Homo sapiens: one gene and its partner. The protein of the gene in region 1 interacts with the protein of each later gene in a pairwise test. Each region holds a gene or a part of one and is shown in the gene's direction. Other genes may lie near its edges.

The links. Proteins that work in one complex are often made in the same cells at the same time.
Region 2: the proteins of FAM3C (region 1) and CLEC4E interact in binary tests that used the Homo sapiens proteins (3 or more experiments, as listed by UniProt).

Annotation. Positions count from the first base shown.
Region 1 is NC_000007.14:121,348,352-121,351,324, reverse strand, and holds the end of FAM3C (protein FAM3C precursor), read left to right. Parts: intron 1-55; coding exon 56-182; intron 183-774; coding exon 775-864; 3' UTR 865-2,447; downstream 2,448-2,973. UniProt on the Homo sapiens protein: May be involved in retinal laminar formation. Promotes epithelial to mesenchymal transition.
Region 2 is NC_000012.12:8,537,898-8,545,227, reverse strand, and holds the start of CLEC4E (C-type lectin domain family 4 member E), read left to right. Parts: upstream 1-4,322; 5' UTR 4,323-4,430; coding exon 4,431-4,467; intron 4,468-5,280; coding exon 5,281-5,373; intron 5,374-5,921; coding exon 5,922-6,011; coding exon of another isoform or gene 6,012-6,028; intron 6,029-7,330.

The DNA of each region.
Region 1 (2,973 bases):
TATTAGCATACAGTTCCCTCTGTTTATTGTTGTATTCTTTCTCTCCCTCTTCAAGACTCAATGATGAGGCACGGCGGCTCATTGCTGATTTGGGGAGCACATCTATTACTAATCTTGGTTTTAGAGACAACTGGGTCTTCTGTGGTGGGAAGGGCATTAAGACAAAAAGCCCTTTTGAACAGGTTAGTGTCATAGACTCTCAGAATTAACAAAAACAAATTCTGTGAAACCTTACGGTACATTTTCCCATCCCAGCTATTTGAAAATTAGATAAAGCGGATAGTAAATATGATCATATATTTGTCATAAATTCTTGGTAATCAGTTATTTGAAATAACTATCGTACTTTTAAATTTCAAAACTTGAAAATTCTGCATGGGAATATTTTTTCCTACAGGACAATGCATTGGAATAGGATTACCTATCTTAAGCCTTTTCGGAAGCTTTAGTTATTAAGGATTTTAATTGAGCTTTGGATTTTAGAATCAGTGAAGTTTGGAAATATTTTAGAACTTAGTAGAATGTAAATGTTAGTTTTTGAGTAGCAAATAATCCTTTAAAAGCACGTGCAATGTATTCTTTCAGCTGTTATTTGAAGGTCTGCCATGTATGTGATACAGCCTGAGGGTCACTCATTTAATATCTTGACCAGTAATTTAAATGAACTTATTGTTGACATGAGTATTACTGAAATGAGAAGTGTGTAAAATGTTACGGCAAATCAGCAGTTTACAACGGTTTTTTAAACTGTATATTATTACTGTGTTCCAATAGCACATAAAGAACAATAAGGATACAAACAAATATGAAGGATGGCCTGAAGTTGTAGAAATGGAAGGATGCATCCCCCAGAAGCAAGACTAATGGAAATGTGGAGAGAATTGAAGAAAGCGCACTTTCACTCTTAATGGGAGAGCTATAAATGGCAGAGCTATGTGTAAATATTTTAAGAGCATGCAGCCATCTTGGTGTGTGCATGAGTATTGTCTCTTTTGATATCAGGATTATTTATTGCTAACGTAAATAGATAGCATTGTAAATAATCATCACAATGATCAAATCACTGAACCATGTCTCCGCACATTTCCCTAAAAGTACAATGTTTAGACTGCTATGGTAATACATATTTTAAATTCTAAAAGCATACACAATGTGTAACTGAATGGTTTGTGAAAAATATATTGATATATATACTAGTTGCTATGAAAATATCATGGAATAATAGGGATTTTAGGGTGGATACTTTATTTTCTTTTATGTTTCTATATGTTGCGTTGTGATGACATTATCTTTTAAATTAAAAAGAGATTTGGCTAGTTGTGTGTGTAATGTTACTTTACAGTCCGACTCTCCTGATGTACCTCTTTTCATGATCTTTTTCTTTCCTTCCCAAGAAACTGAGGAATGTTTAATATGAAAACATACATCGGATATGTGAAAAGCACAACAAAATTCTTAATGTACACAGTAAAAAAGTAAATATATAAATGTAGATGGCATTTAGGACCACAGCTTGCTGGATTTGTGTTAGCTATGGGAATAACTTGATTTTGTATAAGCTATTTAGAGTGAGGCTGGAGGTGGCAGCTTCACAGAACTGGAGAACCAGGCCAAGTCCCCTCCCCAACCTAATTAGGTCATTCAGGACAGCTAAGTCAGTATATTTAGAGCAATACTAGCATACGTTTTTCTTAATTGTTATCAGCATTGACCAAGTGGTTTGGAAGGAGGCATGCTTTAATATCACAATAATTTTGATTTGTAAACCAAGAAATTAATCCTGTGTTTATCTAACTTCATAATAGCAATTATTGCCCGAAGCTATAGTGGCATATTTACAAAAGTTCTTATTACTGGGCGGACTGATAACATTTAAAAAATAATTGTGTTTGACCCCAAATGACTTTATACCCAATTCTACATAAAAATATAGAAGATCTATCTTTTTTTGTTACCTTCAGATGTTCACTAAATAACTCAGTTTTTAAGCAGAAGTTTTCAGGGCATTAAATATATGTTGTGTATGAAGTATCTCAAACTGGAACATAAATTTAGTGATCAAACTGCCATTCACAGTGTAAGGCAGCACTTAAATTTCGAACCTAAAGTTTAGATGCATTGTATAAAAAAACCTAAAAGCAGTATCTGTTATTTAGCTGTAAACCAAGTTGGAAGCTATTCGGATAATTTCTTAAATATTGATGAACTTTGGAGTACTGTTTCTTCCTTCAAACTGAATGTAATTAATTCATGAATAAATGCACCTTATATGTTTAAACAATCTTTGTATACTTTTGGGATTTTTGGTGCTTATATGCTAAATCACATTCAGCATGTGTATTTTGACATTTAAAATACTTCCCTCAATTCTGTAAATTAAAAGAATAGTTATTTTACAGTTCCAGGGATTGTGAAATAAATGTTGCAGTTTTTTAAAATAATGAAAATAAATACTCTTGGTTTTGCTTTGTGAATTTTTTTTTTTTTTTGTATTATCTGGCAAAGTAATATACCTACAGAACTTCACAAAAACTCACACAAGGTTTTTCAAGCATTTATTATACTGCCTAACTTGGAAAAAAAATTGTTGCTGTGGTTAAAAATAGTAATATCCTAGATGTGTCTTAACATGTAAGAAGCTAAGTATCTAGATGGCGGAAAAAGCCCTTTTATTAAGACTGTAAAAGGATAGCTTTTCCAGATATATAAAATGTTAAAAGAAGACAAAGATTGGTTATGTTAACTGGTGTGGTTTCCTTTTGTCTCAGTTCAATCTTGTATAGATTGTGCCAACTTAACTTTGAAAGCAATAACTTTATACTACATTTTCAGATACCTCTTTAAAATCGGTTTTAGACATGAAACAGTGCTCATTTAATATTAAGAATGTTCTTTATTAAAATCAAATTAACATTGACATAGTATTTGAAATGGTGCTTATGGGCTTATCGATGCATATTTTTTATTTGTAAT
Region 2 (7,330 bases), on another chromosome or scaffold:
TGGTGGATCCTGGAGATGAATTGTATGTTAGAGAGGACTGAATAAAATCATGCTTCCAACAGCATCAGCTGTACCCAAGATGGCATCACAATTCAAGCTTTGCTAAAAGCTAAAAGACAGTAATATTCTGTTATCTATTTGCCTAAAACCTTATTTTCTATCTCTATTTAGGGAGAAAATCAAAGCTAATACACATTCATGTGGGATGGATTCCAGTATACATTTGCTATGTTCCCATAAGGTTATTTAAATTCTCCTTTTTATCACGGCACTTGGCAAGAAGATACTTAGATGTGATCAATTAGAAAGTAATATTATTAACTGCATTAATGTCATATTAACTCAATTTGAAGATCTAGCAAAGATTGAATTACTGTATAATGCTTGTTAATCATATGAGGCTGATTAACCCAACTAAAGAACAGGGTCCAGGGGAAATGGTAAAATTCTTAGGCATCACCTGGACAGGGGAGATGAGAGGCATCCCTCAGACAACCAAAAATAAGTAATTGTCTCTGCCAGCTCCAAAATGAAAGCAAGAGGTGCAAAGATGTTGGCTTGTTAATGTGGTGGAGAAATGGCATACCCCTGTTAATAAAGTTATCAAGAAAAAAGCTAAATTTGACTGAAGTTTTGAGCAAGATAATACATTTGTATTTTTTTTTGTTTTATGTTTTTGGAAATTAAAAAGCCCTTGTAAAGCCCTGTGGGGCCCCACGAGTCCCAAACACAGACGATTTAAGAAGTTTCTGCAGCACACAGTCAAGCCATGCTGACTGGAGCCGCTGGCAAAAGCCTGTTACTGCCACCTAGTGGCTGCCTGTGGGATTTTTGTAATAAAAAGCTACCTGGCTGCAGCTTGAAGTAGCACCATTTAAAAGGAATTGCTAGCTTGTTACTGGGTTTTAGTTGAAACTGCTTTTTGTACTGAAGGACATAAAATTATTTGAAAACTCATAACATCCTATTTATATCATATCATCATTCCAACAAGAAATGAAATGCACAGAATTCCCTCCTTGAATAGAAAGGAGATACTCAAGAATGTGAAATGGGGTTACCCAATGCATGCACAGTCAGGTGGCTGACAGGTCACCATAAATTTGGTTCCCCTGAGGAGTTGGCTAAACCTATAGCTGAATAGGCCCCTCTCTCTGGTCAGCTGTCAAGGCAGCAGTGTGGCTTACAGATAGATGGCAGTTCAAGGGTAAAGGGCTGGCCGTCAACCTGGGAAGCAGCAGCCCTGGGATCAGTTAGTGATTGCATGTTAGATGAAAAGACAAAAAATAAATCTGCCCCAAGGCTAAAATTGAGTGATGTTTCTCTTGGCATCAAAGAAAAGTAGATACTAACAATACTCGTATGGCATAGATGTTTACAGCTTTTACTGATTCTTTTTCAGTTGCCTGAAATATTGACAGGCAATATAGTTTAGAAAAGGGACTTAGACGATAAGTTCCTGGATGATATTTAAAAAGGGAAATCAAAGAATCTATTGCTGAACAACAGGTGCTGGAGAGGATGTGGAGAAATAGGAATGCTTTTACACTGTTGGTGGGACGTAAACTAGTTCAACCATTGTGGAAGTCAGTGTGGAGATTCCTCAGGGATCTAGAACTAGAAATACAATTTGACCCAGCCACCCCATTACTGGGTATATACCCAAAGGATTATAAATCATGCTGCTATAAAGACACATGCACACGTATGTTTATTGTGGCACTATTCACAATAGCAAAGACTTGGAACCAACCCAAATGTCCATCAATGATAGACTGGATTAAGAAAATGTGGCACATATACACCATGGAATACTATGCAGCCATAAAAAATGATGAGTTCATGTCCTTTGTAGGCACATGGATGAAGCTGGAAACCATCATTCTCAGCAAACTATCGCAAGAACAAAAAACCAAACACCGCATGTTCTCACTCATAGGTGGGAATTGAACAATGAGAACACTTGGACCCAGGAAGGGGAACATCACACTCTGGGGACTGTTGTGGGGTGGGGGGAGGGGGGAGGGATAGCATTAGGAGATATACCTAATGCTAAATGACGAGTTAATGGGTGCAGCACACCAGCATGGCACATGTATGCATATGTAACAAACCTGCACGTTGTGCACACGTACCCTAAAGCTTAAAGTGTAATAAAAGATAAATAAAAATAAATAAAAATTAATCCCCCCCCCCAAAAAAGAAATCATTAAGCATGGTCAACTTTAGAAGAATGCACTAAGGATAGTTAAGAAGGCTTTTACTTGTCACATGCTTTTCATAGTATTAATCATAAAACATATTACTCGTATAATTTGGGGAAAATCAATGAAACAAAAGATATAAAAACATTTTGGCTGGAAAAAATATTAATTTATTGATTTCTGTTTAATTGTATATTGATAAAAATTAACATACAATTGTTTAGTAATATTGATGGTTGCTGGTTGATTGTAATTAATAAAAGATGGACTGTGGTAATTATGTTCATCATTTTATAATTCATATAGCTCATCCACTAGATAGTTTCTCTTTTTTTACTGATCAAAAGCTATTTGCTGAGAATACACATATTAAATATGGGTATATTCTATAATATACACATATATAATTTAAAGATATTTTTAAAATTGTATTACTATAAAACAGAGAATGCAGAGAAAATTGACCAGTACCTTGAAATAATAAAAAGTCCCTTTGAGAACAAGAATATTTTCTCACACATGGAAAATTCGTGAGTCACTGGATGTGGGGATTTACCAAGTCATGTACATCATACTTATGCCTCCTGACTCGTGAACTTAAATAAACTGAGACCAGTGTGATCTTATTCTTAAGTATCTTTAAGTAAGGAGAAGGCACATATCTAACTATTCTTCCAGAGAAGCATTAATTCTTTTTTTTTTTTTTTTTTGAGACAGAGTCTCACTCTATCGCCCAGGCTGGAGTGCAGTGGTGCAATTTTGGCTCACTGCAACCTCTGCCTCCCAGGATCAAGCTATTCTCCTGTCTCAGCCTCTCAAGTATCTGGAATTACAGATGCGTGCCACCACACTTGGCTAATTTTTGTATTTTTAGTAGAGGTGGGGTTTCACCATGTTGGCCAGGCTGGTCTCAAACTCCTGACCTCAAATGATCCACCCACCTTGGCCTCCCAAAGTGTTGGAATTACAGGCATGAGCCACTGCTCCCGGCCCAGAGAACCATTAAATTCTAATATCTAATTGAAATTGCTTTTTCTGACCTTCAAATACATTTCTCCTACTGTAGGCTGTAACATAGAACTAAAATCCCCAAATAATTGAGAACAGGAGAATTAAACTGCCTGCTGGGTCTCTGAGACTTCAGAAGCTGCGTTATGTTGTGAAAAACTAAGCTGAGTTTCAAAGTGGTCTAATCACATGAGGCTGTCCTGCTGAGGGGGACTCTAGTAGTCAGCCTAGTAGTAGCAGCCTAGTAGTCAGCATAAGATAAGAGGGACATAAATCCACAACATTAGAATATTCAAGAGCTGCAAATGAAGAAGAAAGAAAAACCATAAAAGATGAAAAAGAGGACGGGCGCGGTGGCTCACGCCTGTAATCTCAGGACTTTGGGAGGCTGAGGCGGGCGGATCACGAGGTCAGGAAATTGAAACCATCCTGACGACCACAGTGAAACCCCGTCTCTGCTAAAAATACAAAAAATTAGCCAGGCGTGGTGGCGAGCGCCTGTAGTCCCAGCTACTCGGGAGGCTGAGGCAGGAGAATGGCTTGAACCCGGGAGGCGGAGCTTGCAGTGAGCGGAGATCATGCCACTGCACTCCAGCCTGGACGACAGAGCGAGACTCTGTCTCAAAAAAAAAAAAAAAAAAAAAGATGAAAAAATTCAGGTTGCCATGTCCTAAATACATACACTATATGCCCAGCTTTGTGCTATGTTGTCTAAGTCTTCTTTTCAGTTACCAAATGTGTGGATGGTACAGATCCAAAGTGAAATTCAGAGTGCAGAGGTGAGCTCCATATTGTCAAGGAAAAACTGGGGGATGAGTTATGCCTTGAAGAAACTAGAGACATTTGGTCCAACGAAACGAAACAACATTTAAAAAAAAAACTCTCCTGTTTCCCCATGGCTAGCCTATTTGTGTTGATGCTTACCATTTCATAATTTCCTCATTTTGTTGTTACATGGAGTGAAGAGAACTGACATGCTGTCCAATAAACTTCCTTGTCCTCCTTATGCAAGAAAGGAAATCCTGACTTAATGCGTAGCCACAGAACAAGTTAATATTCTACATCTATCGGAGCTGAACTTCCTAAAAGACAAAGTGTTTATCTTTCAAGATTCATTCTCCCTGAATCTTACCAACAAAACACTCCTGAGGAGAAAGAAAGAGAGGGAGGGAGAGAAAAAGAGAGAGAGAGAAACAAAAAACCAAAGAGAGAGAAAAAATGAATTCATCTAAATCATCTGAAACACAATGCACAGGTAAAATCTGCAACTCTTCCTTTCCTTCCATAGATCTCTTTTTGGAACAAGTGATAAATATGGTGAAAGACAGGACAATAGAAAAGTATTCACTGAAGTTAAAAAAAAAAGTGGGGGGACAGAGGAAGAGAGAGAGAGAGATTTAAAGACTATTTCTTATACCAGAAAGCCTGCTGGCCTCTAGCTAAGGGAGAGCTATCAGTTTCCACCCTTTCTGCAATACATTGTGTCCCTTTTGGCAAGTCACTTCACTTCTCTGGAACTCTCTTTGTCTGTAAAATGTTTAATGGGAGGAAGAGAGGAACTATTAGATGACTGTTAACATTTTACCTAATTTACAAAGCGCTTGAAAAGTGAGACACAGAAAAAAAAAAAAGATCAGGAGAAGGACAAGAAAAGCAAAGACGAGAAAAGGGAAAAGAAAGAAAAAGAAAGAAGGGGGGCCTTAGAAAATACTGAAAAAAATTTAACTGAGAGACTTAGAAAGGAAAAATTGTATATCTGAGTTCATGAGTCAGAGTCTTACTCCAGGGGTGCTAAACGTGTGGTCCTCAGACCAGCAGCAGCAGTAGCCCCTGGGAACTTGTTGGTTCCATACAAACTCTACTGAGTTGCTAACTCTGGGGGTAAGGGTCAGCAATCTGTGTTTCCATAAACCCTCCAAGTGATTCTGAAGCATGCTGAAATTTGGGAATTACTCAGTACAAACAATGGAAGTAGAAGGAAATAAGTAAGGATGAATAAGAATCTCTTCTATCTCTTTTGTACCTTGCTTAGGGAAGATTGATCATGTTTGTGTCTTTCTTTCTACAGAGAGAGGATGCTTCTCTTCCCAAATGTTCTTATGGACTGTTGCTGGGATCCCCATCCTATTTCTCAGTGCCTGTTTCATCACCAGATGTGTTGGTGGGTTCTGAAGGTCAAATTCAATTTAATTCTTCCTGGTGCATATTAGGAGAAAACTCTTCCATGCTGCCTGTAGACTCTCTTTGCCCTCAAAGGGTCTTTCTATTTCACCCTTTTTTTTTTCCCTATTAATCTCTAGGTTATTTCTCAAACCAGAAACCTCAACAAGCAGGGAACTGTTTCTGAATTTTAATCACCTGTGACTTACTTTTCATGATAGACATTTTTCACTTCCTTGGCAGTCCTGAATCCTCCTCTTTCAGCCTCTATCATTAGTGTAACCTTCTCTAGGAGAGTCTGCCTTAGAGCTTGAACTACTGGTCGGCACCAGAGATATGACTAATTACTTTTGGAAGGAAGGGTAGAGAGAGTTGGACTTGGCATAAGAGGTAGTGCAAACATATCTATTTTCTCTGGGTCGTAAGAAAAAGCAGATTGTAAGAAAAAACATGATAATTATTGGCACTTTTGTTATAAATACAAAACTGAGGGAACTGACATTTTTAACCGAAATAAGACTAACAAACATTATGCCCTTTCTTTTACAGTGACATTTCGCATCTTTCAAACCTGTGATGAGAAAAAGTTTCAGCTACCTGAGAATTTCACAGAGCTCTCCTGCTACAATTATGGATCAGGTATAATAGTCCCAAAGGTGAACATCAAAATTTACAAAGCAACATTTTCTGGCTTCTAGATTGACTTTGGGACAGGTGAGATATAGCTGGATTAGGTCTTATTTTTCAAAAGCAAAATGTAAAATCCTAGAAATTTGGTGATGCAATTAGCATTGGGGCAGAAAGTCTTGGGGACATTATAGTAAACTTTTAGAATAAATTTGAGGGGTATGTCTGAACAGTAAATCTGGAAGTGGAAGGTATTATTCCCAGGAGTGTACCTTTTTTTTCATTCACCTACTTCCAAAATGAGATGGAGAAAAAACGTATGGAGTAGAGAATTTATAAATATCTCACAAATATACTCTCTATGCTCTTCTATGTCATCCTGTTGCAAGTCCTAGCAAAATGCTACATGACACTAAAAAAGTGACTTCCTTCTCTGAGCTATAATTTTCTCACCATTAAATTGAGAGAAGTTAGAAGAATTATTTATAATAGACCTCAAAGGCAAAAGTTCTGTAATTCTAAGAAATCTAACTGTAGGGACCAGCCCCACAGGGTTGGTGGGTCTCTCCCTGTGTCCAGAGACGAGAGCATGTAGAAATAAAGACACAAGACAAAGAGATAAAAGAAAAGGCAGCTGGGCCCAAGGGACCACTACCACCAATGCGCGGAGACCGGTAGTGGCTCCGAATGTCTGGCTGCGCTGTTATTTATTGGATACAAGGTGAAAGGGGCAGGGTAGAGAGTGTGAGTCATCTCCAATGATAGGTAAGGTCATGTGGGTCACGTGTCCACTGGACAGGGGGACCTTCCCTGCCTGGCAGCCGAGGCAGAGAGGGAGAGGAGACAGAGAGAAAGACAGCTTACGCTATTATTTCTGCATATCAGGGACTATTAGTACTTTCGCTAATTTACTACTGCTATCTAGAAGGCAGAGCCAGGTGTACAGGATGGAACATGAAGGCAGACTAGGAGTGTGACCACTGAAGCACAGCATCACAGGGAGACGGTTAGGCCTCCGGATAACTGCGGGCAAGCCTGACTAATGTCAGGCCCTCCACAAGAGGTGGAGGAGCAGAGTCTTCTCTAAACTCCCCCAGGGAAAGGAAGACTCCCTTTTCCTGTCTGCTAAGTAGCGGGTGTTTTCCCTTGACACTTAACGCTACCGCTAGACCACAGTCTGTCTGCCTGGCCACGGGCGTCTTCCCAGACGCTGGCGTCACCGCTAGACCAAGGAGCCCTCTGGTGGCCCTGTCCGGGCATAACGGAAGGCTCGCACTCTTGTCTTCTGGTCACACCTCACTATGTCCCCTCAGCTCGTAGCTCTGTACGGC